Linked DNA regions of Homo sapiens: all the other regions are linked to region 3. Evidence: fine-mapped expression QTL. A gene starts in region 3. Each other region holds a variant in brackets. All regions are shown on one strand. Distances are between the middles of the regions.

Region 1 (4,068 bases), 98 kb before region 3:
TACTAAGGCTTAAATAACAAAAGAGGATGATACAGAATGTTTCATAAGTCAGTATGTTGTAATATCACAGTATATTCAAACAAACAGAAATTCCACTGGTCTGCATAGAAATGTGTTTTTTTAAATCAGTGATTTAGAAAACAATGATGTCATGATTCTAGACAAGAATCTAGCATAATCTGTATGGGGTGCTTAGATGCTACAAAATGCCTTCAATTTATCTGTTATTGTTTGTTGTTGTTAATGATCATAAAGAATGAGGAAGAAGATTAAAATTTAAACCAAGTGACTTGTGTGGAGATTCAAGCATCTCTATCCAACCAATCTTCCTTAGCCTAATATGGAATATTAATCTTTATATTTATCTCCTTACTTTCCCTAACACAGCATTAATTGCAACATTTTCTTCATTTTACTCCTCACAGTCTTTAATGTAGTAAGTTCAATTCTCTATTCCAGTTGTAGAAACTTCAACTTAAGGCCCAATTTTTCCACACTATCCTCTTCCTCAGTACGAAGATAAATTGTAATTATCAAAAAATTAACACAAAGCAATTAGAAAAACAATCAACTTCCACCCACCTGTAAGATGATAAGCTCTCAAAGAACAGTGACATTGCCTTTTATTTTGCAATAAGCAAAATAAGAGTTTAAATTAAAAGCAGTAATGCTTTTAATTCATGTACAATGTTTGTTTTTAAAAAACAAAACCTCATATGTTCATCGTAGAATTTTTTTTTTGAGACGGAACCTCGGTCTGTCGCCAAGGCTGGAGTGCAGTGGCGTGATCTCGGCTCACTGCAAGCTCCACCTCTCGGGTTCAAGTGATTCTCCTGCCTCAGCCTCCTGAGTAGCTGGGACTACAGGCGCCCGCCACCACGCCTGACTAATTTTTTTTGTATTTTTAGTAGAGACAGGGTTTCACCGTGTTAGCCAGGATGGTCTCAATCTCCTGACCTTGTGATCCACCTGCTTTGGCCTCCCAAAGTGCTGGGATTACAAGCGTGAGCCACCGCACCCGGCCAGAATTTTCTTTTCAATTTAAATTACTTACACATCAGACTGCTCTCCAATTTGTTTTTAAACTTAACATAAGCTTAATAAACTTATTAAACTTAAAAATTTCACACTTATCTTTCCATGGGATTAAATAAGCATTTATATTGTTATTTTAATGGCTTCAAAAATGTCTTTAAAATGTCAACGAACTTAATTCCTGTAAGGTATATAGGTTGTTTCCAATTTTCCCCCATTGTAAACAATTCTGAAAAGCAGTCAATAAGTAAATAAATTACTTTCCTAGGACCAATTCTGAAAAACAGAATTCCCGGGTGGAAGGTGTTTGCTCTCTGCTACAGCTGCTGTAATTTACCAAGGAGCTGTACATATGAGTGCTGTTTCTTATTCTTCGCCAGTACCAGGTGCTAACATTAAGAAATAAGCAAGAACTGAGAGCACATTATTTTAACTCATATTTGGTAAACATTTTTCATATATTCCTTAGTCCTTCATATATTTCTTTTCTGTCCATCCACTTATTTTTCCCTTTCTTTTTGTTTAGTTTTTTTAATTGTGGCAAGAACACTTAATGAGATCTACCTTCTCAACAAAATTTTAAAAGAACAATATAATATTGTTAACTGTAGGCACAATGCTGTAACAAACATCTCGAAAACCTTTTCGCCCTTGCATAACAAACCTTGTACCATTGAACATCAAGTTCCCATTCCCTGGCAACCACCACTCTACTCTGTTTCTGACTTTGACTATGTTAGATGCCTCCTATAAGTGGAATCATACAGTATTTGCCCCATGACTGGTTTATTTCACTTAGCATAGTGTCCTCCAGCTTTATCTGTATCACAGCATATGGCAGGACTTTCTTCTTTTTAAAGGCTGCATAATACTCCAGTGCACATATATGCCATATTTGCTTTATCCTATGGACACATTTAGGTTGTTCCCACATCCTGGCTATCATAATGTGGCAATGACCATTGTTGCAGGGAGTCAGGGACCCCGAATGGAGGGACCGGCTGGAGCCACGGCAGAGGAAACATAAATTGTGA[C/T]GATTTCATGGACATTTATCACTTCTCTAAAAATACTCTTATAATTTCTTACGCCTGTCCTACTTTAATCTCTTAATCCTGTTATCTTTGTAAGCTGAGGATGTACGTCACCTCAGGACCCTGTGATGATTGCATTAACTGAACAATCTGATTGCAAAATGTTTATTTGAACAATATGAAATCAGTGCACCTTGAAAATGAACACAATAACAGTGATTTTAGGGAACAAGGGAAGACAACCATAAGGTCTGACTGCCTGCGCGGTCGGGCAGAATACAGCCATATTTTTCTTCTTGCAGAGAGCCTATAAATGGACGTGCGAGTAGGAGAGATATCGTTAAATTCTTTTCCTAGCAAGGAATATAATATTAAGACCCTAGGAAAAGAATTGCATTCCTGGGGGTAGGTCTATAAACGGCCGCTCTGGGAGTGTCTGTCCTATGCGGTGGAGATAGCTTGGCCGGGTGCGGTGGCTCACGCCTGTGATCGCAGCACTTTGGGAGGCTGTGGCGGGCAGATCACGAGGTCAGGAGATCGAGACCATCCTGGTTAACATGGTGAAACCCCGTCTCTACTAGAAATGTAAAAACTTTGCCTAGCGTGGTGGTGCGCACCTGTAGTCCCAGTTAGTAGTCCCAGGCAGGAGAATGGCGTGAACCTGGGAGGCAGAGCTTGCAGTGAGCCGAGATCGCGCCACTGCACCGCAGCCTGGGTGACAGAGCCAGACTCTGTCTCAAAAAAAAAAAAAAAAGGACTGAGAGAGATACGCCCTGGTCTCCTAGTCTCCTGCAGTACCCTCAGGCTTACTAGGATTGGGAAACACCAACCCTGGTAAATTTGAGGTCAGACCGGTTCTCTGCTCTCAAATCCTGTTTTCTGTAAAGATATTTATCAAGACAATACGTGCACTGCTGAACATAGACCCTTATCAGGAGTTTCTGATTTTGCTCTGGTCCTGTTTCCTCAGAAGCATGTAATCTTTGCTCTGCCTTTTTCCCTTTGAGGCATGTGATCTTTGTGACGTACTCCCTGTTCATACACCCTCTCCCCTTTTCAAATCCCTAATAAAATCTTGCTGGTTTCGCGGCTTAGGTGGACATCACGGACCTACCAATATGATGTCACCCCTGGAGGCCCAGCTGTAAAATTCCTCTCTTTGTACTCTTTCTCTTTATTTCTCAGACCGGCCAACACTTACAGGAAACAAAAATAACCTACATTGAAATATTGGGGGCGACAGACCATGGGAATGCAAGTATCTCTTCAACATCCTGATTTCAATTATTTTGGTAAATAACGCCTTATCAGACGTATGGTTTGCAAATGTTTTCTCCTATCTCATAGGCTGCCTTTTCATGCTATTAAATGACTGCTTTGCTCTGCAGATTTTTAATCTGATGTACTCCAACCTGTCTATTTTTGCTTTTGTTACCTGGGCTTTTGGTGTCATACCAAGAAAAATGACATGAAGTTTTGCCCCATGTTTTGTTTGAGGTGTTTTATAGTTTCAGATCTTATATTTAAGTCTTTAATCCATCTCGAGTTGATTTTTGTGTACTGTGTGAGATAAGGGTCCAATTTCATTATTTTGCTTGTGGATGTCCAGTTTTCCCAGTACTATCTACAAAAAGACTATCCTTTCCCTATTGTGTATTCTTGGCACACTTGCTGAAGATTAGCTAACCGTATATGCACGGATTTATTTCTAGACTATTTTATTCCATCGGTCTATGTTTCTATATTTGTGCCAGTACCATACTCTTTTAATTACTGTGTGTTGTAATATACTTTAAAATCAGGAACTGTGATGCCTCCAGCTTTGTTCTTTGTCAAGATTGTTTTGGCTATTTGCAGTCCTCTGTCATTCTATATGACTTTTGGGATTGTTTTTTCTATTTCTTTAAAAAAATGACACTGGGATTTTGATAGGGATTGCACTGAATCTGTAGATCTCTTTGGGTGGTATGTCCATTTAGCTTCTATTATAGAGTTGTCTTTA
Region 2 (4,068 bases), 150 kb before region 3:
CCTGTGCTTCTAAGTCTCTTAATTTCATCAGAGGCCTGTAATTTACAAATATGAAGGGAACAGTGGGTCTCCCTCTCATTGTATCAACTCATTCTTGCACACATACACAATGCAAGGCTGAAGGATATTATCAGGATACCTCTGGGGCATGGCAAGAAACAAATAGTAGATCATCAGAAATTAAATGTGTTGGTAAGTTTACAGCAAAGTCTGATTTATTGCACATGATTTTTTGAAAGTTTTGATGCATGAATGGCATATGGAGCAGTCCTATTAACAGGATCATCTGAGTCATCCCTGACTACCAGATTAGAAGATACCAGACTCAGTCGAACAGGACGACCTTTGGCAGGAACTGGTATGTATACTAGGTTGGCCCATTAACAACCATGAGTTCCTTTCCTTCCTTTACAAAAATTTCCTGATAATTCAAAATGCTGGTATATCCACACAGGGGCTTGGCCGTTATCTCCCTCAACAGAAGTCATAGTCTCCAGAAGAAAACCAAACGCCAAACCAACACAAACCAAGCAGCAGAGAGGTCCCCCATGTCCCCTACTGTCCAGGGCTGGTTTGGGTTTGAATGAGGCACTTGTAGAAGCCTGAGTCACTCATCACTGTGGGGAGAAGAGGCCAGTAGCATGCGGCAGCTGGACAGTCAACAGCAAGGCACCGCGAGGGCGGGGATCACTTAAGCTGCCTTGCCAAACTCTGCCAACTTGGTTAGAGTCCTGGCTGGCAGCAGCTGTATTTCAGGGCCGGGCCAAGACTGACGCTGAACACTGAACATGCCACTCACACTAACATCGTTCTCTGTTCTAGACACTGCAAAGTGAATGTTAATTCATATTTTTGGTAACACCTGCTACTTGTCCAAATGGATTAATCTTATTATAGCACAATTTTTTTTTTGAGATGGAGTCTTGCTATGTCGCCCAGGCTGGAATGCACTGGTGCCATCTCACCTCAATGGAACCTCCACCTTCCCAGTACTTGGGATTACAGGCACCCACCACCACACCCGGCTAAGTTTTATATTTTTAGTAGAGACAGGGTTTCACCATGTTGGCCAGGCTGGTCTCGAACTCCTGACCTCAAGTGACCCACCCATCTCAACCTCCCTAAACTGCTGGCATTAGAGGAATGAGCCACTGCGCCCAGCCCACGATTCTTTTATCACATGCTAATTCACAAGAAGCAAGATGAAGAATTTTGATAAATAGTATTGCTATTCATTTCTATTAAATTCATTTCTATTCATTTCTATTAAACGTATCCAACTGTTTTGGATCTAAGAAACCTGTCCAGGGTGGCTGGTATATTAAAGTACTGATTTTACATAGATATTTAAACATTTTTCTTATGCAGGTGAAGATCCAAAATACCACTGAAATATAAGCCTGATTTGTTTGTAGTTTTTCCAAGGACTGGGTGCTGTTTTACATGTTCCTTGAAAAAGAAAACATTCTAGGAGGCAGCAATGAATAAATATGGAACAAACTTGGAAAGAAAATGTGAACTTTATCTTTTGTATAATTTCTAAATATCTTTAGGAGCAGTTAACCCAACTCCACAGTTCTAAAATGCAGGGCTCAATTTCACACATATTACCCCATTTGTAAGATCCTCTTTCATTCTGAAGGAAACATACCAGTTTCTCCATTTTCATTAACTTGATGTCCTGTTGATGCAGTTTCTCATTCTTGATCTCTAACACAGCTTTCAGGCTTTCTAACTCCTGTTCTAGATACATGATCTGAGGATTTTTCTGGAAAGGACACAGCAAGATACTGCTCTTATTCCACATAGTTCAAATTCTTAACAGAAAGAATCTTTGATTAGATTGAGACATTAGACAAGTAGCAAGCGACAGATGTTCATCATCTTAGAGCAATTTCAAAGAAAGAGGTGAAAAACAAGAGCACCTTAATGTCGAAGACTGGTCCTAATACTGAAAGCAAACATTTCACTTATTTATCAGTAACTTAATATGCAAAAATGTGAGTTGCATCAAACATGTTATTGTATCAAGAGAAAAACTTTGCTTACATACAAAACAGAATCTTGGCTGGAGATGAGGCAATCTGTGAGTCAGTTATTGGCATTTTCTGGGAGAACAGGGAACAACAGTTCTCTCCTACCAAACAAACTGATCAGGAAAGAAAAAGCAGTGCATTATACGGCTCTCTGGAAAACAACAGGGATAACAAT[G/T]TCCTGAGTGTTTGGATTTTTGTTATGATGGGGCTACGTTGACTGGGCCATACTTCTAGGGCAGACATAATACTATCATTTTCTATTGTGACACCCCAGTACCTACACGGCATGGAGTACACAGCCTATTTAAATTTCTCTCCAAAAATTACAAGTTTGCCAGGCATAGTGGCATATGCCTACAGTCCCAGCTACTCAGGAGGCTGAGGCGGGAGGATCAACTGAGCCAGGAGGTCAAGGCTGCAGTGAACTGTGAATGCACCACTGCATTCTAACCTGGTGGCAGAACAAGATCCTGTCTCAAAAACACAAAACTCTCCAAAATAAATGCTACATCAGGGGAGGCGTCCTCTGAGAGCACACCATCAGTGTGGATTTCCCACCACCGCCCACCCACTCCTTGCTTTATTCGGAAATTCAACTAAACCATTCAAAATTTATGCTACAGAAGAACAGCATATGGTCCACTGATCAGATATGTTTAATGAAGCAACGTCTTAGGTAAGAGTCGGTGGTGTGGTCATCAAGCTTATCTTCCGGGGCATTGGTTTCTGCTCTGGACCAATCCTTAGGGAGAATCCAGGAAGGGGCCTCGGGGATTACTTAATCCAAACCCCTTACTTCACACAGAAAGAGGAAACGTGTTCCACGGGTTAAGCGCCCTACTCAGGAAAGATCAGGAAAGCTTCCAGAGCTGGAAAGGGTCAGGGCAGGGACTAATACATCTTTAATTCTAGGTTCTTTAGATAGTTCCCTGAGGCTAGGAGAGGTATGCGTGTGTATGGTGGGAGGTGGGGTGGGGTGGGATGAGGAGAGGTTGGTTAATGCATACAAACATACAGTTAGACAGAAGGAATAGGTTCTAGTGTTCAAGAACATAGTAGGGTGACTATAGTTAATAATAATATATTGCGTACTTCAAAATAGCTACAAGAGAAGATATAAAATGTTCCAAACACAAAGAAATGATAATGATGACGGATACCCTAAATACCCTGACTTGGGCATTACACAGTCTATGATTGTCTCAACACATCACACGTACCCCATAAGTACATGCAAATACTAAGTATCAATTTTTAAATTTCATACATTTTATACAGTGTTACCCTTGTACGCAGGATTTTTTTTTTTTTTTTTACCTTGAAAATAGCGAATCCTACCTCATTTTTGTTAGAGGGAAATGGCATAACTTACCGTCAGTTTTAAAATTAGAGCATTTACAAGACTTGTACCCTCTGCATTTTCTCCTCCTCCTCTGCCAGCCCATCCCTTTCTCCCGGACTACAGTCAGACGCACTCTTTTTCCGCAGCCTCAGCATGCTTACGTGACAGAAGCGGTTGGATGCTTCTGTGTTCCTCACTCTGACTCTGCCTTAGCTTTTCAAAAGCGGCTGCAGTAGAAGAATCCCCTTTGTGTACCGGAAGCTCTTTCAAACCTGTTTCCTGAGCCATCAATAAAGTTTATACCCTGCATATCCCTGCATGTAAGTCTAGATTTCTTTTGAAATCACTGACTCTTCCTAAGAATCTTCTAGAATAAATAGCTTTGAAGTTTCTTTGAATATAAGCTCATCTAATGTTATCAAATAGCTAGAGGGTCTCCCAATGACATTATTTGCAGAAGGTCTCACTGAGAGATCCACACATGTACTTTCTAGAGCTGGCCAGAGATTTGAAGTGGAGAAAAGCTTTGCTTCTGCAGTCTCAGAGTATAAACATGAAATGAAAACAGTGGTACTAAAGGCAGAAGCAGCAAGGAAACAAATTTTTTTCAAAAAGACAAAGGTTGGGGTAAGGCTGGGGAAAAAGGACAAATGTGCCACAAGAAATTTCAGCTTCCAAGAGATTTGTACT
Region 3 (4,068 bases):
TTTTAAATCTTCTACCACAGTCACATATAGTTCTGAAGCTACGATTTAGAAGTGTTAAAAATTCTGTTTTGAGAAAGTCAACAGATTTATCAACATTAAAGAAATTTGTGTATGTCAAAACTACTGTAAATATATAAAGCAAAGATAAAATGGGAAAAGTATCTGCAATATGAATGGCAAAGATTTACTATCAATCCATAAAAGGCTCTTATGAATTAATGGAAAAATACTAATATCCCAGGAGAAAAATCTGGCACTACATCAAATTTCAAAATGGAAAACAACTAGATTTCTTTGGTGTTCAAATCATCTGTAATCAAAGAAATTGAAGTTTAAATATAGAGAAAGCACTGTTCACCTATAAACCTGGGAAGAATTTTTTTTTTTTCCCTTTAAGGATGATTCTACATGTTGACAAGAATACGGTAACACCAGTATTCTCACAGAGAGCTGGTGGGAACATAATTTGGTTAAACATTTTTTGGAAAGCAAATGGTCAATATGTATGAGGAGATCTTCCAACCATCAACTGTATTTCAAGGGCACTAAGGATATTAACCCTGCACATAAAGTTTTAAAAACGTATTTGTTGCAAAAGTATATTTAGTAAGTGGAAATAAATGAAAACCAGTTTGATACATCTATGTAATGTAATATTAAGTAGCCACTAAGATTTCTGAAGATTTCATGACATGGAAAATTTTTCATGATACATTAATCAGGAAAAAACCTCCACGCAATAGTATATTTAGATAAACTATATAACTATAAAAAATTTTTCTATATATTAACAAGTATTTTCTTAAATATTAACTGTGATTATCTTTGCTGAAATTGCTTAACTCACTTTTCTCAATCTACCTATTTTTATACAGCAAGCACGGATTACTTTTGAAATCAAAACAAACAGGGTTAACAGAACAGGGCTATTAAGTAACAGGCTTTTTAAATGCTTGAGTGTAATAACTGCAGGTTAGTTTCCAAAAAATATAAGATATTATCTAGAATCTTATAATCCTATTATACTCCAAAATGTAACCTTGACTTATTGACATAATTAAAAGGTCTTGTTCCAAGCATGATTTTCTACCAAGCAGATTTACCAAGAATTATTTTCTCTTCATAAACCTGATTTTAAAAAGAACAGGTGAAAAAACGTGGTGCAAGTTACATAAATAACTACATATTATTTTAAACTAAATTCCACTTCTAAGGTTTTTTAGCTTTGGTTTTAAGGATAAGCATGTAGTTCTAATCTTTTCTTTGTATAGCTTTCCTAATGGAATATATTGCCTATGAAAAAAAAAAAATCTGTAACAGCACTTTCTACACTGTAAAGCACTGTACTAACAGGACATCACCATTTTAAGTTGTGTATCATTTCCTGCCCTAACCATCCCTGAAAAAGCAAACTGTCTACAGAATTGCAATTCCGTTTATGCAATTCCTTTTAAAGTTGTCCATGCACTGTTATCTTGTATATACCCTCCTTAAAGAGGTCACTGGTTCCCAGGAAGCAATGACTCTCTTTTTTAATCCCCTCCCTCCTGCATTGCCTCCCTTCCTCCTGAAATTCACTGGTAACACCCCTACTCCCACCCTCCAGCCCCAGCGCTGTGATTTAGTGATGATTGACTTTCGATCACCTGCACCTGGCAAAACTTGAAAGCTTCCACGCACCGTTTTGCCTAAGACTTTGGTTTCATTGAAACAAACAAAACACACTGGATTTCCTTTCTTAGAACACTGACTACTTCAAACAAACAGTATTTAACAGAGTATGTGTAACTACGCAGGCTAAATGAATTAACCTCTTCCTTCCTAGTCCCAAATTACTCCAAGTCAAAAATCAACAAACAACTTGGTAGAAAGGAGTACGTCTTCAAAAAAGAACAAAAACGTTCCTCAGTGAACACCTAAGTCCACTAAGCACTATAGAGTAGTCAATAAGGTCACCTTAATTAAGATGAGATTTTTCTAGAGCGTGAAAAAGTGCAAACAAGCTGCAGAAAGTAGCGAGGCGCCACGAGGGGTCTTTGGGACCTGCAGCAACCCTATTCCACCCGCTTTCTCGGCCCCGCTTGCTTCTGCTGAGAAGGGGCCCTGCGAGAAGGCTGGGACCGCCGGGCCCGGGTGGGCGGCGTAAGGAGTCCACAGTCAAGCCCCTCGGTCACTTTCAAGGTGACAGCGACGAGATCCGCATCCGTCCCTTCCGCAGGCTCTGCGCTGGCCCACGTGAGACCCGCCTCCGCTCCGCCGGCGCTGCCGCCCCCTTTAGCCCTCAGCTTCGGCCCCCAGGCCCCTGGAACGCCCCCTCCCCTCCCCGAGGACCGGTCCCGTCACCCTGGGCGGCGCGCTCGCCTGTCCCCTCCCCACCCCGGCCGCCGGGCAGCGGGAACAGATTCCAGCGCGCACTTACCCGCAGCTCCTTCAAGCGCTCCGGGAGCAAAGACGCAGAGGCGGGGAGGGCTGGCGCCCTTTGCACCACTGGCGGGGTCGCCGAGAACCCGCCCCGGAGGTCTCGGGGGCGGCGTCTGCACCTGGGGGCGCGCGGCGCGGCACCACCCCACGCCTGCGGCGGCTACCAGGCGGGACCCGGAGCCCCGGCCTCCCCGCCTCCCCGCCTCCGGGGCCGCCAGGGGGTGGAGCAGGGCGGGGAGTTCGGGAAACTTGTAAATAGCCGAACTCGGGCCTCCCGCCCCAACCCGGGGCGGCTCCTTCCGAAGGCTCCACTCCAGCGGCTCGCTGCGGGAGACCAAGGCCAGCCGCCGTCCCAGGGGACGGCCCTCGGGGAACCTGAATGACGTGCGAGGCCGTACCTCGGGGCGCTGGACTCCGCTCGGGCGCTCCCGCTCTCCGCTCCCGCTCTCGGGTCCCAATCCCGACGCTCCGCGCGCTCCCGGACTAAGTGCGGACGCGCCCCACGCCCCCCGGCGCCAGCCCGGGACAGCGCTGCACCTGTTGCCACGTGCGACGCGGCGCTCAGCGGCTGCCACTGCCGCCGGCGCACCTGGCTGCACCGCGCGTCCCGGGACCACGCTCGTCCCCGCAGGAGCCCGGGGCTCCGCCGCACCCAGCGCTAGGGCCCAGGCCGGGCCGCGGTAGGTGGGGGATCTGACTCCTGCTTGCCTCTGGCCACCTGCAGGCCGAGGGGCCTCGCACCGCGGGGCGTATAGAAGGTGGGAAGGTTGCAGAATTATCAGGGCGGAAGCTTGCAAGGAAGGAGTCGTGATTGTCTCTTAGAAGGGCTGATTCGCAGTCTGTATTATCTTCATGCTTCTAGCAAGTTTACTAGCAAGTGTGTATTAAAGGTTAAAGAAAGTAGCTTTCCAGCTATTAGAGCTTGAGATACAACGTGGAAAGGAGTCTAGAACCCCAGGGAGATAAACTAGGCTCGACCTACTTTTCTCTAAACACAAACACAGTCCTTGCTGTTTGCTAAACTGAGCAAATTTCATCGACAGCTGTCTTCTAGGTCCGTAAAATATTTTCTTCTATAAAGCATATTTTTAATAGAAAACTTGTCCGAAGATGCTATTCTGCCTGTGAGAGATGTCACATTGCTGAACCGTGAAATGTCAGACAACCTGAGAACAAAATTTTAATATTTCCTTTTTAATTACCTGGATTGTGGTTTGCTAAAAGCTTTTAAAGAGAAGTGAACTTTTTTGGAGAATAGACGTAAGGACTCTGTATTTCACAGTTTTCTATACCATGAATATTAGAATAACTGACAGATGTCTTGCCATTGATAGTTGTAAAGACTTTTCATATGTACAATGATCCATTATTTCCTGACTACAAAACCCAGGGGTATATAGGTCAGATTATCTCCATTATTCAAATGAGGAATTGAAGCTCAGAAAGGTCAAGTGACTAGCGCAAGGTCACACAGCCAGTGAGGGCAAGTGCAAACCCAGCCAGCCTAACTCCTAATCTTCTCTTTTAATTCCATTACATAATGACACCTCTCATTTGCTTCAGAAATCCCTGTTGTAAAGATAGATGCAACTAGCATGATCCGTGTTGTTAGGAAAGGCATGTGATTAATTTTAAATAGATATAGTA
Region 4 (4,068 bases), 160 kb before region 3:
AGACTTTTTGATGTAGTCATTTAATGCTATGAACTTTCCTCTTAGCACTGCCTTTGCTGTATACCAGAGGTTTTGATAGGTTGTGCTACTATTTTCATTCAGTTCAAATAATTTTTTAACTTCCATCGTGATTTCATTCTTGACCCAGTGATCATTCAGGAGCAGGTTATTTAATTTCCATGTGTTTGTATGTTTTGAGGGTTGCTTTTGGAATTGAGTTCCAATTTTATTCCACCGTGGTCTGAGAGAGTACTTGATATAATTTCAGTTTTCTTAAATTTATTGAAACTTGTTTTGTGGCTTATGATATGGTCTCTCTTGGAGAATGTTCCATGTGCTGATGAATAGAATGTATATTCTGCAGTTGTTGGGTCGAATGTTCTACAAATAGCCCTTAAGTCCATTTGTTCTAGGTTATAGTTTAAATCCATTGTTTCTTTGTTGATGTTCTGTCTTGATTACCTATCTATTGCTGACAGTGGAGTATTGAAGTTCCCCACTATTACTGTGTTGCAGTCTATCTCATTTCTTAGGTGTAACAGTAATTGTTTTATAAATTTGGGAGCTCTGGCATTAGGTGCATATATATATATATATATATATATATATATATATATATATATATATATAATTGTGATATTTTCCTGTTGGGCAAGTCCTTTTATCATTACATAATGTCCGTCTTTCTCTTTTTTAACTGCTGTTTCTTTAACGTTTGTTCTGTCTGATATAAGAACAGCTACTCCTCTATAAGACAGGCCTGCACCTGTAATCCCAGCTACTAAGGAGGCTGAGGCACAAGAATCACTTGAACCTGGGAGGTGGAGGTTGCATTGAGCCAAGATTGAGCCATTGCACTCCAGTCTGGCCGACAGAGTGAGACTCTGTCTCAAACAAAACAAAACAAACAAAAAGAATAGCTACTCCTGCTCACTTTGGTGTCCCTTTGCATGGAATATCTTTTCCCAGCCCTTTACCATAAGTTTATGTTAGTCCTATTTGTTAGGTGAGTCTCTTCAAAACAGCAGATACTTGGTTGGTGACTTCTTACCCATTCTGCCATTCTGAATCTTTTAAATGGAGCATTTAGGCCATTTACATTCAACATTAGTATTCAGATGTGAGGTACTATTCTATTCATCTTGCTATTTGTTGCCCGAATACCTTGGTTTTTATTTATTTATTTATTTATTGTGTTTTTGTTTTATAGGTCCTATGAGATTTATGCTTTAAGAAGGTTCTATTTTGGTGTATTTCAAGGATTTGTTTCAATATTTAGTGCTCCTTTTAGCATTTCTTACAGTGCTGGGTTTGTAGTGGCGAATTTTCTCAGCATTTGTTTGTCTGAAAAAGACTGTATCTCTCCTTCATTTATGAAGCTTAGTTTTGCTGTACACAAAATTCTTAGATGATGATTCTTTTGTTTAAGGAGGCTGAAGGTAGGGCCTCAATTTCTTCTAGCTTGTAGGGTTTCTGCTGAGGAATCTGCTGTTAATCTGACATGTTTTCCTTTATAAGTTATCTGGTGCTTTTGCCTCACAGCTCTTAAGATTCTTTCCTTCATCTTCGCTTTAGATAACCTGATGACTCTGTGCCTAGGTGACGATCTTTTTGCAATGAATTTCTCAGGTGTTCTTTGAGCTTCTTGTATTCAGATGTGTAGCTCTCTAGCAAGGCCAGGGAAGTTTTCTTTGATTACTCCCTCAAATATGTCTTTCAAACTTTTAGATTTCTCCTCTTCCTCAGGAACACCAATTATTCTTAGGTTTGTTTGTTTAATATAATCCCAAACATCTTGGAGGCTTTGTTCATTCTTTTAAATTCTTTTTTGTTTGTCTTTGTTCGATTGGGTTAATCCAAAAATCTGATGTTCGAGTTCTGAAGTTCTTTCTTCTGGTTGTTCAGTTCTATTGCTAAGACTTTCCAATGTATTTTGCATTTCTCTAAGTGTGTTCTTCATTTCCAGAAATTATGATTGTTTTCTATTTTTGCTATCTATTTCACTGAAGATTTTTCCCTTCATATCCTGTATCTTTTTTGA[TTTAA/T]TTAAGTTGGAGTTCACCTTTCTCTGATGCCTCCTTGAGTAGCTTAATAACTGACCTTCTGAATTCTTTTTCTGGCAATTCAGGGATTTCTTTTTGGATTGGATAAATTGCTGGTGAGCTAGTGTGATCTTCTGGGGTGTTAAAGAAACTTGTTTTGAAATACTACCAGAATTGTTTTACTGGTTCCTTCTTATTTGGGTAGACTATGGTAGAGGGAAGATCTGGGGCTCAAGGGCTGCTCTTCATATTCTTTTGTCCCATGGGGTGCTCTCTTGATACAGTGCTCTCCCCCTTCCCCTATGTGTGTGGCTTCCTGAGAGCCAAACTGCAGTGATTGTTATTTCTCTTCTGTATCTAGCCACCCAGCAGAGTTACTGGGCTCTGGGCTGGTACTTAGTGGTGCCTGTACAGAGTCCTTTGATGTCTCAGGTCTCTCAGCCATGGATGCCAGCAGCTGCTCTAATGGAGGTGGCAGGGGAGTGAAATGGATGAACTCTGTGAGGGTCCTTAGTTGTAGTTTCGTTTATTGCACTAGTTTTGTGTTGGTCTTCTGCCAGGAGGTGGCACTTTAAAGACAGCATTAGCTGCAGTAGTATAGGGAGGATCAGGTGGTGGGCAGGACCCTAGAGCTCCCAAGAGATTATGTCCTTTGTCTTCGGCTACCAGGGTGGGTAGAAAAAGACCATTAGTTGGGGGTGGGCTAGGCGTGTCTGAGCTCAGACACTCTCCTTGGGCGGGTCTTGCTATGGCTGCTGTTGGGACTGGCGGTGTGGTTCTCAGGCCAATGGGGTTATGTTCCTCAGGGGATTATGGCTGCTCTGCTGTGTCATGCAGGTCACCAGGGAAGTGGGGGAAAGCCAGCAGTTACAGGCCTCACCCAGCTCCCACGTAGCCCAAAGGGCCGGTCTCACTCCCTCTGTCCCTGCCAACAGCACCGAGTTTGTTTCTAGGCAGTGGATGAGCAGGGTTGAGAACTTGTCCCAGGCTACCAGCCTCTTGGATAAGAAAGCAAACAGGGTTTTCAGATTTCACATCTCCTACCTGCCACGGTTTCTGTGCTGTGTCTGCACTCCTGCTTCACCCCCTCACCCGAGTTCTGTCCAGGAAACTGTGTTTGGTCAAAATTGTTACAAAGTTCAGCTAGAAGTTTCCTTCTCCCTGTGGTCTTTTCCCAGTTTCTCTGGTAGCCCTCTCCAGGGATCTCTGTGAGACAAAGTCAGAAATGGCTTCCTTGGGGACTGAGAGAGCCCATAGGGCTCTTTCTGCTGCTCCTTTCTATTCCTGTGTTTCACTTGGCTAGAGTGTTCTCTATACAAGCTGTGCCCATGGCAAGCTGCTGTGAGCAGACATCCACCAAGTGGACATAGACCACGCCAAAAAGGTGCTGTGAGGCCAGAGATAATTTTAAAGTAGACTTCTCATAAAAGCAATTGCAGCGTATTTAGCCCTTGTGCATGTTCTGCTTGCTAAAATAACAGCTCTGCTCCCAGCACGGAATAATCCCTTTGTTGCCAGAAGAGATTTGGCCTCCACAAGACACATTAAGTAGCTGACATCCTTCTGGCCTATGGGCTGTGATTGGTAGAAAATAACTGTCTCTGGGGAATAGTGTTTTCCGGCATCCTGGTACCAGGCACTTGATTATCAAACGTGTTGGTCATACTTACAGGACATTGATGATTTTCAATAGAGGTCCCCGCCACATTGCTATTTGGTATTTTATGAGAAAAGGTATTCACTTAGTGATATATTAGTTCTGTTACATGAATTCAGAAAATACTATGTTCTTATCACTGGAGTTGGGTGGACATCTCAAAAGTGACCATCGCACTTTGTAGAAATAGGGGTCCTGTCATGTAGTACATTATCTTACCCATCCTTGGTACAACTTTTCTCCCACTAGAGTCCTAAGGCACACTGGCCTAATCATACTTCTCCCTCTCTCAAATCTGAGCAATTGGGAGCTCTTAGTCATTTATACAGTGGGTGCTTTTTCAGGCTACTGACTTTCAGTTCTGTAGGT
Region 5 (4,068 bases), 190 kb before region 3:
TCCTCAGGGATCTAGAACTAGAAATACCATTTGACCCAGCCATCCCATTACTGGGTATATACCCAAAGAGTTATAAATCATGCTGCTATAAAGACACATGCACACGTATGTTTATAGCGGCACTATTCACAATAGCAAAGACTTGGAACCAACCTAAATATCCAACAGCGATAGACTGGATTAAGAAAATGTGGCACATATACACCATGGAATACTATGCAGCCATGAAAAATGATGAGTTCATGTCCTTTGTAGGGACATGGATGAAGCTGGAAACCATCATTCTCAGCAAACTGTCGTAAGGACAAAAAACCAAACACTGCATGTTCTCACTCATAGGTAGGAATTGAACAACGAGAATGCATGGACACAGGAAGGGGAACTTCACATACCGGGGACTGTTGTGGGGTGGGGGGATGGGAGAGGGATAGCATTAGGAGATATACCTAATGCTAAATGACGAGTTAATGGGTGCAGCATACCAGCATGGCACATGTATACATATGTAACAAACCTGCACGTCATGCACATGTACTCTAAAACTTAAAGTATAATAATAATAAAATTTAAAAAAAATTTAGAGCAAAATTTAGGGCAATTATGAGTCGAGGATTTAAAGCCTTTCTAAATATGTATACAAAGAAAATGCATGGCTGGGCATGGTGGCTCACGCCTGTAATTCCAGCCCTTTGGGAGGCTGAGGCGGGTGAATCACTTGAGCTCAGGAGTTTGAGACCAGCTTGGGCAACATGGCAAGACCCCATCTCTACGAAAAAAGATACACAAATTAGCAGAGCATGGTGGCGTGTGCCTATAGTCGTAGCTACCTGGGAGGCTGAGGTGGGAGGATTGCTTGACTCTGGGAGGTGGAGGCTGCAGTGAGCTGAGATCATGCCACTGCGCTCCAGCTTGGGCAACAGAGTGAGACTCTGTCCCAGAAAGAATGAAAGAAGGGAGAGAGAGAGACAGGGAGAGGGAAGGAAGGAGGGAGAGAGACTGAAAGAAGATGCTGAGTAATATAAACCGCATTGTGAGGGTTAGCCGTCCTCATTGCCTTCAGAAGAAAGACAATGTCTCTTCCTGTGTCAGTTGCCTCCATCCTTCCTCCCCATGCCCCATACCCATTTCACTCCAACTGGGGTCTTTAGATGTGTTCTTGGACCTCATGCTTTTTTGCAATAATTTTTTAAATTTTTTCTTGCATTTTGTTGATAATATTAAAAACTTTGTGTAAGAATATTCTGGATTATCTGAATAACCCCTGCTGGGAGATCAACGTGACCCATTTGCATCTTCTCTGCACACATTTTGTTTCTTGAATCTCATCATAACACACTTCCAGGGTGTAAAGCCAGAGAATTCTTGGCACCGCGCTGAGCCAGGGAAGAAAATGAGATGAAACGGAGAATAAGTGGGTCTGGACGAAGGCTTAAATATAACCAATCAATGCTGGTAGGAACAAGGAGACGTTGGAGATTTCAGCTATGTTGTCAGCAACATCACAGCAGTAAAAACAAGATAGGCTGATGTGGTAATAAGCCCTGGTCCTGCTCCCTAGGAAATAAGAGTCCAGGCATTGTCTTTCAGGATGTTTTTCTGGTATCTGGTCGGATGTTAGCATTTTTTCAGTCAAAAACTGGGAGTTGGGAGGAGTGCGTGGGGCACAGGAGATCTCTTTGATGGCTGGCTCCTCGGAAAACAATAAATAGCTTTTAGAGAGAAGGGAGGGCATCGGGCTTTTCATTTGGCCACGGTTGGCAACAGCTTACTCCACCCACAGACAACACAAAGGGAGGGTGGGCCGATGGAGCAGAGAGTGGGCTCCCAGCCAGGCTCATCATGTCATCCAGCATCTGGAGGGAGAGTCTGGAAGACATTTTAAAAGAAAAGGAGAAATATCTTAAGTGGTTATCAACAGAAGAATCCCACCATTGAGAAAGAATCTGCACAGACTTTGGTAAATGTTGTGGAGAGTACTCTGGTGTTATGCTGAGTAAGGTATTTTTTTTCAAATAATTTATATTTTTCGAAAATACACAGAACGTACAATTTACCATATTAACCATTTTTAAGGAGATAGTTCAGTACACTTAAGTGCATTCATATCATTATGTGAGTGTCTTTTGTATGCGAACTCACTTTCCTCCAAAGCTCGTTTTATTTTATTTTCTGAGCAGAACAAATGAAGATGAGGAGGCTCTCACTTTGCCTTCATTCTTATCTGGAGCATGGGTCCAATTGGGGTCTAATTTGCAGTGGCCAGTCAAAAGGAAACGCCACCCCCAAACTCTAATACTTGCCTTCAAATGGTCTTCCACCCCAGAAATGACAAATAGGTGACCTAACCAATGCTGAAGGTAGAGCGTTCTCTTTCCAGACTCACTGGCACCAGCTGCAGGCCCTCCGTATTTCCCCAGAGATG[G/C]GTGGGTGGAGGCTGCAGGATACAAGACTTCCCCCAGTGTACTCAATGTTCTGAGAGCGTTCAGCTTGCAGAAAAACACAGCTATGTTCCGTTCAGGACAAGGGTGGGGGGCAGGTAATAATAGAACGAGGCTCATTGTGCTGTTCTCAGGATAGAATGAGGTCATGCGTGTAAACCTCTTGGCACACATAGTAAGCCACCTAAATATCGGTGAGCTATTTCTGTTCACCATACTGTACCCAAAGGAGGTAAATCATAAGAAACAGCCAGTTTTTCGTTTTTTGTTTTTTTGTTTTTTTTTTTTTTTTTTTGAGACGGAGTCTTGCTCTGTCACCCAGGCTGGAGTGCAGTGGTGCAATCTGGGCTCACTGCAACCTCCACCTCCCAGGTTCAAGCAATTCTCCTGCCTCAGGCTCCTGAGTAGCTGGGATTACAGGTGCATGCCACCATGCCCTGCTAATTTTTGTATTTTGATTGGAAATGGGGTTTCCTCATGTTGGCCAGGCTGGTCTCAAACTCCTGACCTCAAGTGATCCACCTGCCTTGGCCTGCGAGTTTCGTTTTAAGAAACGTTTTAGACGTGTGTCTCAATCCCCTACAAACTCTTTGTGTCCATAGCACTGTGGAGGGCTCACTGATGCTCATACTAATGGTCCCAAGGTTCTCTAGATCACCCATTGCTCGTCGATCTAGTCATTAGAGTAGGGGAAATTGGTTGAAGCACGTTCTATAGTTTTGGGGAAAACGTCTTCTGCTAACTCTTACTTAAAAATAATGTTTCTACCTACACCAAATATGTATTTAAAAAAACAACAAAAAAAGTTTCTTTCAACAAAACATTTCATTTCTTGAGCATTTCTGGTAAGTCTAGGATTGATTATCCCAGATGTGTTGCACAGAATTAAAATACAGTAAGAAAATGACAATACAGTCAAGCTAGTGCGTTAAACCAAAGACACTGTAGGAATATCACCAACTATGTTAGATGATAATTTTGGGGCATCTTGCAAGATGGAGCATTGTTTATAGTACCAGTGATTGCATGTATTTTATGAGTGAAATGTTGCTTTAACAAGTAAGTATACATGTGGGTGACGTCTGGGATTTAATGCTCAAATGTAAACACTGGTGTGTTAGTAGCATGATTTTTGGCCAAGTATTTGAATATAGAAGATGTAAATAAAACAGCTTTGAAAGATATGTCAAAGGAGGGAGCAAGAAAAGAGGAATAAAGGATAAGATGTAAAATGGGAAATTTTATGTCCACTAGTGTATAATTGTGTAGAATGGCACATTTATAAAAAAGCAAAACGAAGATGTCAGAGGTTTGCCTCCAGTGTCCGGGCTTGGCTGCCTTGGCGGCTCCGTCCCACCCACACAGCCGGCTGCAGGTGGGCAGCTGCTAAGTTGCTGCCCTGGGGAGTCCGCCCAGAACCTTCTCTTGTCACTTCCCGTCCTGCATTCCCAACTTGTCCACTCTGTCCTGGGGCCTCAGGGGCCTGTCTCCTGCCTCGCTTGGTGCCTTCCTGCTCAAAGACTTTGCTTGGATTGCCTTTGGGAGTTCATCCTGATTTGCCCCTGGTCTCTGCCTTTCAGACCACATCCTACTGTCCAAAGCACTCCTCTCTCTCCATCCCACTGCCTAG
Region 6 (4,068 bases), 100 kb before region 3:
TCACCTCTATGTGAACTCTAGCTCAAAAAATTATGACTGCAAATAAACAGAAAATAGTTTTACGTAAGTTTAGAAAATAAAATGTGTCCAATACATCACTATCAACTAAACCCTGGTAATAGAAGCCTTGTGTCGTTTGCTTACGCTGTCTTGGAAAGCTATCTGCTTCACAACAACACTACAGACAACTTAGAATGTCTACTACTAGAGCACTGGTTAAGTAAATCATGACTTACCCAATAATGGAATGTTACAGAACTATTTTTTTTAATGAGGTAGATAAACATGTGATCACATGCAAATCTAAAACACATTAACTTTAAAAAGGTATAGAATATATAGTACGCTTTTATTTCTGTATAACAAAAAAGAATAAAAAAGACCTGCATAGATTTACATGTGACTGGAAACGTGCAAGAACACTATGCAAGCAGCTGAGAGCGGCTGTCTCCACGGAGAGCAGACAGGGACTCTGGGTAAGAGAGAGGCTTGCCTAGGACTGCACAACCTTCCATACTGTTTGATTTTTAACTTGGAGCGTGGATTACAGTATTTTTAAAAGAACTCTTTAAAATTAAAAGCTATTTGGAGCTACTTTAGATCAGACAAATTATTGCAAATATAGGGCACCCTTTGTTATTTTTCCCCCCTATTAATTTGTTCAGTTGGAAGGGCTGCAGCGGCCCTGAGCTGGGAGAGGAGGGCCACTGCTGACCTCCTCCTCGCTGCCTCCCCCCATTTACCGTCAGCTCAGACTGAAAGGGAGAGGCTGGCAAAATCAAATGACAGGTCAAGGGGAGTTATGAAACACGAGAGAGAGGTGCTGGAAAAAATGAGAATTCTCCCACAGAGAAGGGAGATGCCTCTGGGAAAACTAAAAATAGTCAGCTGAAAACAAATCACCAGGGACAGAGATGAGCCACGTGGAAAATAAGAAACACGAGGGGTCACGTGCACATGAAGCAGAAACAAAAATCTATTTACATCCTCATCAAACATTCCTGTGACACCTAACGCTATTCAGCCCAAAACAAATATAAAAACACCCCAGCTAACATATTTTACAGAATAAAACTGATTTAATTTACTGTAGCTGTAAAATCATCTAGGACAAAAGTAGCAACATAGGCCAACCCAATGCCCTAAAAGTGAGCAGACAGGTCACCACGTGCCTAAAATATATACTAAATTTATTTTCATCTTAGGCACCGAAAATAATAAGCAGATACAAACATAAACCTCAGGGGAAGTATTTTGAGACTGCACACACTTTTATTATGAAGATTGGAAAACTAGATTTGTGATTCACTTACTACTTCCCCATAACCATTAGGATGTTTTCTGTCAGAAGTGTTTAGTATACAGAAATCTTTTAGCATATTAAAATTAACTGTCAAATCTGACTGAGAAACTATCCAATGAAAAACGATGGGAACCTTCTCATCTACACAGGCGAACAGGAAATATTCTTCTAAATTTACCTGTGTCCTATTTCCCAAACACTGGAACTAAAATATAATTTAACAGGTGCTGATTTTCACACATTTGGCTGGTGATGGAGAAAAGAGCTAGGGAACACCAAGGCAACAATTCTGCCTTCCATCAACACAAACAACACAATCTGCTGCCAAAAGTAAAAGTACTATGCACTTGTGCTGAAGCAACAGAAAACAATTTTTAAATTAAGCCTCATCTCTCATTAGAGAGAGCTTTTTTCCTCCAATTATCTGTCTCCTTGGAAAAACCTCTGATAAACATCTGCAAATTAATGAAGACATCCCCCGTGCAACACTAAACAGAGATCTATGCGAGACAGACCTGTGTGGAAAACAACAGTGCTTCTCCTAAACCCTGAAGGAAGTCGAAGGTTTCGAAGCAATCCTTTGGCCGTCAGTCGTATGTGAATGGTGGATAAGGAGAATTTGGGAGACAACAACATGTCTTCGGAGCAGGTGGCGAGATTTCACAGAAGAGGCAATTTCCATGGACTGTCACATACTGTCTTTTTAAACTCAGTACTCTTCAAGGCCAAGAAATACAGTCAGAGGAAAGATGCCTACACAGCAAATGTCATTCCACCA[G/C]AGAGGCATAGAAGAAAAAAATCCCCCAGGGCTGGCCAAGTGTTTCTGGCTTCCGTTTTCACTTTCAGATGTTGCCAAAATGATGCTCTTCCTCTGAATACAATCTCCCTCCTGCAGGTCTAGAAGCTGCCTCTGAACCACATCACACTGTGCATGCTTGTGGAGTTGTTATGGTTTTCATCCGAGATGGTAAAGGGGAGGAGAAAGTGGGTGGTCTCAGGAGCTTTACAGAACAACCAATAATGTCACAGATCCTGTAACCACTTGAAAGATCGCTAGGGGAAATTAACTACTTCAAGTGCCTAATGTTTCTTTCATAATTAGAAAAAAATTAGGATTTCCTGAAAGTAAACTGTGTCCTGATTTTAACATTTTTCACTCCTTATATTCACAATGATAACATGAGCATTTTTTCTCTAGATATTTTACATGTAAACTACATTTAAACCTGGTATTTTGGAAAAGTTTTTTTTTTAAAGACTTCAGGCAATAAATGTTCTCAACTACAATATTTAAGAAAATTTCTATTCTAATATATTAATGACAGATTGTCAAAAGGTTAAAGTTCAACTTTAATTCCCACATGCTGAGGACCTCACAAATAATCAACAGTAAAAGATTAATACGGTTTCTCTATCAGATGTAATATCAGAGTTCCAGAAGAATAGTCCATCAGATAGGCATATTCTAAAGACTACATTTATTGCATGAGTAATTGCATTTATAGAACATCATGTGGTCTCTTATAGTGGTCTTTCAAGACTAGGAGTGTGAGGAGGGCACAGTTATGAATATCTTTTGCCAGTTATCTACTAATTTTTATTTCAGTAGAGTGGCTTGTAAAAGTATGTTAAAACATGATAGCAAAACCAAAAGAACTTGAAAAACAAAGATATGGTTATAAGAATTAACAACAACAATATGCCCACTTAAGCTAATTCCATTAAACCACGAATAGCCTGAGCTCTTAACATTTTTAAAAATGTTATAAACAAAACAATGTTTTAAAAATGTCCTATGCCTGTTTCCAAGATTTCCTAGAAAATAAGACTCAGAAATAAATGCAGAATTGTTACCATAAATAACACTATTAAGTGCTATTAAAACTAGCAGGAAGCAGTTCTTTTAGAAATTCTATAGAGTAGGGTATGAAGCAGGGAAGAGAGAGGGAGGAAGAGAAAATTTAAATAAGTTCTCTTCCCTCAAGCCCCCTCCCTCTTCACTCAAGCCCCCAACTTGCCATTTTAGAGGTTGTCAGCAAGAGAGACAGACCCAATAACCTGTCCAGGGTTCCTGTGAGAAAGATACACCTAGTTCATACACTGACGAAAAACCTGCTACATACATTGCACCACAGCAACTGAAGCTAAATGATCAAGGAATTAAAATCAAGGCCAGCTGCTTCTAGGTGTTGCCTTTTACTTCATCCCAGTTTATTATTAAAAAACCTGAACACCTTTTCCTTCCAGATTCTACATACTAAAAATATACCAGAACCTTTTCCTCTACCTCCCAAAACCTTGTAAAAACCAAGAAACCAATCAGCATTAAAAACAAACAGAAGAACAGAGTCAAATTTTGCCATGATTAAAAACAGACATGCCACCACTCCATATAGTAGGAGGTGGTTTTTCTTTCTTTTGGTTGTGTTTGTTGTTTCTTCAGTAACAGCAAATTCTAAATTATCCTTTTTTGTTTGTTTTTGTTTGTTTTTTGAGATGGAGTTTCACTCTTGTTGCCCAGGCTGGAGTGTAATGGCGCAGTCTCTGCTCACTGCAATCTCTGCCTCCCGGGTTCAAGTGATTCTCCTGCCTCAGCCTCCGTAGATGGGATTACAGGTGCCCGCCACCATGCCTGGCTAATTTTTGTATTTTTAGTAGAGATGAGTTTTCACCATGTTGGCCAGGCTCGTCTCGAACTCCTGACCTCAGGTGATCCACACACCTCGGCCTCCCAAGTGCTGGGATTACAGGGGTGAGCCACCACG
Region 7 (4,068 bases), 110 kb after region 3:
TAACTGCTTGTTGAAGTGAACTAAACAAAAAATTTAGCTGATCATCAGAAATATATTTTATTAAAGCTGTTTTTACCATTGTTGTCGCCTGAACCACATAGGCAGAGTCAGAGACAATATAAACAGGTTGATCAAAATCTTCCAATACAAATATAACTGCTTGTAGCTTAGCTCTTTGTGGAGAATGAAACTGGGTTTGAATAACCTTTTCTTCTGGTCCTGTATAAGCTGCTTTTCCATTCTGAGAGCCATCAGTAAAGACAGTTACAGCCCCCTCCAAGAGGATAGAACTGGTTATTTTAGGTAAAATCCAGGTAGCCAATTTTAGGAACTGAAAAATTTTTGTTTTAGGGTAATGATTATCTATATGGCCAACAAAACCAGCTAAATTAGACTGCCATTCTGATAAATGTATAAAGGCTTGTTGAACCTGTGCTTTGTTTAAAGGAACTACAATTTTATCTGGATCTGTGCCAGTGAATCTAACTATTCTTAATTGGGCTTGGCCTATAAGAATAGCTATTTGATCTAAGTAAATTGAAAAAGTCCTAGTTGTACTGTGGGGTAAAAAAGACCATTCAACCAAGTCAACATCTTGAATAATCACTCCTGTAAGAGAATGGAGAGTAGGAACACCAAGAGCTGTAAGGGAACACTAGGATCTATTCTACTGACTTGAGCACTTTGAATTTTTTCCTCAATTATTCTTAACAGCTGAAGCTGTTGCAGGCGTCAGAGTTCTTTTGCTATGTAAATTTGGATCCCCTCTCAGCAAAGCAAACAAGTCAGACCTCGCATAAGTGGCAATTCCTAAGGTGGGCCTTATCCAATTAACGTCTCCTAATAATTTTTGAAAATCATTTAAAGTTTTTAAGGACTTCTTACGAATTTCTACCTTTTGAGGCATAACTGTTCTCTCCTCCACCTTCATTCCTAGGTAATGATAGGGTGTAGTAGTTTGAATTTTATTTGGCGCTATAGCGAGAACTGTAAGCCCCACCATTTCTTGTAACATAGAAAAACATTTGATAAGTCTATCCCTACTTGTAGCAGCACATAAAATGTCATCAACATAATGAATAATATTAACAATCAGGAAACTGATCCTGGACGGGCTGAATGACCTTCCCAACGAAAGTTTGACGAATTGTAGGACTATTTAACATTCCTTGGGGTAAAACTTTCCACTGATACCTAGTAGCTGGTTCCTTATTATTTATAGCAGATATTGTAAATGCAAATTTTTCAAAGTCCTGGGGATCCAAAGGAATGGTGAAAAAACCATCTTTCGAATCAAATTTTTTTTTTTGAGATGGAGTGTCACTCTGTCGCCCAGGCTGGAATGCAGTGGCGCGATCTCGCTCACTGCAAGCTCCGCCTGCCGGGTTCACGCCATTCTCCTGCCTCAGCCTCCGGAGTAGCTGGGACTACAGGCACCCGCTACCACACCCGGCTAATTTTTTGTATTTTTAGGAGAGATGGGGTTTCCCCGTGTTAGCCAGGATGGTCTTGATCTCCTGACCTCGTGATCCTCCCGCCTCGGCCTCCCAAAATGCTGGGATTATAGGCGTGAGCCACCGCGCCCGACCCAAATCAATTATTACCACCGGCCATTCTCTTGGAATCATGACTGGGGATGGCAACCCCGGTTGGAGAGCCCACATCGGTTGAATGACTGCATTAACCGCTCGTAGGTTGGTCAACATGCGCCATCTACCGGATTTTTTCTGAATTACAAAAACCGGGGAATTCCACGGTGAGAAAGAAGGTTCAATATGTCCTTTG[T/C]CTAATTGCTCTTTTGCTAGTCAATGTAATGCCTCCAGTTTTTGCTGAGGAGGCGGCTACTGATCAACCCACACAGGTTTTTGAGTTTTCCATTTCAATGGGATGGGCTTTGGAGGCTCAACAGTGGCCGCCCCTAAAAAGAGTACCCAATTCCTTTTCGGTCAAGTTTAACTGAAGCTTCAATTGGCTGAGTTATTCCATCCTCATTCTTTCCTAATGTTTTTCCAGGAGTATACCCCAACTTAGTCATCATGCTTTGACTCTCTGAACTGTAAATCATAGAGGGAATGGTGATTTCCGTACCCCACTGTTGTAACAAATCTTTTCCCCACAAATTAATGGGAATGGCAGTAATTATAGGTTGGATGGTGCCTTCCTGTCCATCTGGTACTAAACAGTGTAAAATTGTAACACTCTGATAAACTTCAGATGCCATGCCTATTCCAATTAAACCCATAGAAGCTCTCTGTTTGGGCCATGTTTTTGGCCACTGATCCAGGGCTGTAACAGAAATATTAGCGCCTGTATCGACAAGTCCTTCAAAGAGTTTTCCCTGAATCGTTATTGTGCACACAGGTCTATTTTCAGAAACTTGACTTACCCAATAAGTTGCTTTTCCTTTGCTATCAGTGCTGCCGAAACCACCTTCTCTTTTTACTGTACTTTCTCCTACTTAGGTAATAACAACAATTAGGTAATAAGGTAATAACAACAATTGAGCAATTCTCTCTGCCTGGCTTGCACTCCAAGGAATACTAGAACTAATAACCAATTGAATTTCTCCCACAAAATCGGAATCTATCACTCCAGTATAAATTTGAACTCCTTTTAAATTTAGACTAAATCTCCCTAAAACAAGTCCAACTGTTACCTCAGGTAAAGGGCCAAATACTCCAGAGGGCACCTTTTGAGGTGGTTCCCCTGGAAGCAGAGACACAGCTCTGGTGCAACATAAATCTAAAGCAGCGCCCCCTGTTGTAACTGGCGCCAATTATGTTACTGTGGTGGTCACTTGAGGGATTAAGGGCACTGGTGCCCACTGACGGACAAACTGCTGGAGAGGGAATGCCCCAGTTTGGAGTGGGGCCTGAGGCTGGCCCCTCTTCCCATTTCCCAATTGCGCCTGCAAGGGTTGGCCATTTTCATCAAATTTGGAGTGACACCGTTTAGCCCAACATTTACCCTTCTGGCACCTGGGACATAAGCCAGGTGGCTCCTTTGTTTGATTAGATCTGGATTGTTTGTTTGATTTGTTCTTATATTCCTTTTTTGTATTTCCAAATTGCCCACAGTTATAACAATTGCCTGAAAAGTTTTTCACTGGATCTCCCACCTTTGATCCTGCCATGTTTTGAGCCATTATCATAGCCTTATGCATGATTCCACCAATCTATCACATGCCCTGATATACTCATTGATTACATCAACTCCCACCAGAACCTTTCCTTTCACAGAGCGAATAGGTGATTGACAGTCAGGGTTGGCATTTTCATAAGCCAAGAATTCTATAATCACCTTCCTGGCACTTTCATCAGTGAGAGCCTTCTGAGCTGCATCTTGAAGAGGAGCAATAAAATCAGGATACGGTTCTTTTGAGCCTTGTCTGACAGAATTAAAAGAGGGATAAGTAGTTCCCGGGTCCTGAATTTTTTCCCATGCCCTCAAGCAACAATTGCGAATTTGCTCAACGGCATCATCCTGAAGCACTAATTGTTGTACAGTTCCTCATTGGCCCCCAACTCCCAACAGTTGTTCAAGTGAAATGGCAACAACAGGATTAGCAGCACGGTTTTTTTGATCTTGATTTTGAGCCTCATCGGTCCACCAACTTTTAAATTGAAGAAATTGGGAGGGCGAAAGAGTAGCTTTTGCTAAAATCTCCCAATCGTCCGGGGCCAATCGCTTGTCCTGAGTTACTGAGTGTAATAGTGACTGGACAGAAGGCGAATTGGGACCTTACTGACCAACAGCTGCTTTGAGATCTTTAAGCAGCTTAAAAGAAAATGGTTCCCATACCGCCTGATGGGCACCACCCTGCTGCTGTGGGAGTTCCAAAACTACTGGAAACTGCCAGGCATCGGGATCTCCAGCTAACCTAGCCTGCCGAATAACCATTTGAAATGGTGATTCATTGACATTAGGTGGCAGTGCAGCCCTATGCTGTACTGGTGCTGCAAAACGTGTTCTTGATTCCTGAGCCCCTAATTTATCCATTCGTGAAACAGGGCAAATTGGAGATTCAAACCTCCAAGGCTCCAGGTTACGTTGCCTTATTGGAGGTGG

Which allele goes with the higher level. Alleles are on the strand shown, and positions count from the first base shown. SD is a standard deviation of normalised expression in the study named. Not every link is listed here.
With allele T in place of G in region 2, the expression in spinal cord of the gene that starts at base 2,453 in region 3 is lower (large effect, 0.83 SD a copy in GTEx).
In carriers of allele T in region 4, the expression in anterior cingulate cortex of the gene that starts at base 2,453 in region 3 tends to be lower than with TTTAA alone (small effect, 0.30 SD a copy in GTEx).

Evidence for each region.
Region 1: its variant is fine-mapped to the expression of MTUS1 in whole blood (TOPMed, PIP 0.98).
Region 2: its variant is fine-mapped to the expression of MTUS1 in spinal cord (GTEx, PIP above 0.99). The same link has a PIP of 0.9 or more in hippocampus, putamen and substantia nigra.
Region 4: its variant is fine-mapped to the expression of MTUS1 in anterior cingulate cortex (GTEx, PIP 0.93).
Region 5: its variant is fine-mapped to the expression of MTUS1 in fibroblasts (GTEx, PIP above 0.99).
Region 6: its variant is fine-mapped to the expression of MTUS1 in whole blood (TOPMed, PIP above 0.99).
Region 7: its variant is fine-mapped to the expression of MTUS1 in whole blood (INTERVAL, PIP 0.98).

The regions. Positions count from the first base shown.
Region 1 is chr8:17,700,825-17,704,892 of GRCh38, forward strand. The region is part of intron 6 of MTUS1 (microtubule associated scaffold protein 1); the gene reads right to left. Among named protein-coding and RNA genes, the nearest start is that of MIR548V, 21 kb to the left of the region's middle. The variant C/T (reference allele first, on the strand shown) is at 2,070.
Region 2 is chr8:17,648,195-17,652,262 of GRCh38, forward strand. MTUS1 (microtubule associated scaffold protein 1) reads right to left here. Exons shown (of 15, transcript NM_001363059.2): 13 at 1,652-1,768. LOC124901891 (a long non-coding RNA gene) reads left to right here. Exons shown (of 2, transcript XR_007060834.1): 1 at 1-358; 2 at 1,369-1,763. Among named protein-coding and RNA genes, the nearest start is that of MIR548V, 31 kb to the right of the region's middle. The variant G/T (reference allele first, on the strand shown) is at 2,212.
Region 3 is chr8:17,798,642-17,802,709 of GRCh38, forward strand. MTUS1 (microtubule associated scaffold protein 1) reads right to left here and starts at 2,453. Exons shown (of 15, transcript NM_001363059.2): 1 at 2,420-2,453. It overlaps MTUS1-DT (MTUS1 divergent transcript), which reads left to right and starts at 2,701. Exons shown (of 3, transcript NR_186403.1): 1 at 2,701-3,101. RefSeq lists silencers at 2,567-2,686, 2,767-2,826, 2,867-3,056.
Region 4 is chr8:17,638,158-17,642,225 of GRCh38, forward strand. All of the region lies in intron 5 of PDGFRL (platelet derived growth factor receptor like), which reads left to right. Among named protein-coding and RNA genes, the nearest start is that of MIR548V, 41 kb to the right of the region's middle. The variant TTTAA/T (reference allele first, on the strand shown) is at 2,042.
Region 5 is chr8:17,604,181-17,608,248 of GRCh38, forward strand. All of the region lies in intron 2 of PDGFRL (platelet derived growth factor receptor like), which reads left to right. It overlaps LOC107986919 (a long non-coding RNA gene), which reads right to left. Exons shown (of 2, transcript XR_001745819.2): 2 at 1,466-1,866. Among named protein-coding and RNA genes, the nearest start is that of PDGFRL, 29 kb to the left of the region's middle. The variant G/C (reference allele first, on the strand shown) is at 2,423.
Region 6 is chr8:17,695,439-17,699,506 of GRCh38, forward strand. All of the region lies in intron 6 of MTUS1 (microtubule associated scaffold protein 1), which reads right to left. Among named protein-coding and RNA genes, the nearest start is that of MIR548V, 16 kb to the left of the region's middle. The variant G/C (reference allele first, on the strand shown) is at 2,082.
Region 7 is chr8:17,911,076-17,915,143 of GRCh38, forward strand. It overlaps LOC124901892 (endogenous retrovirus group K member 25 Env polyprotein-like), which reads right to left. Exons shown (of 1, transcript XM_047422511.1): 1 at 1-4,068. Among named protein-coding and RNA genes, the nearest start is that of PCM1, 9.9 kb to the right of the region's middle. RefSeq lists enhancers at 418-1,208, 1,209-1,997. The variant T/C (reference allele first, on the strand shown) is at 1,786.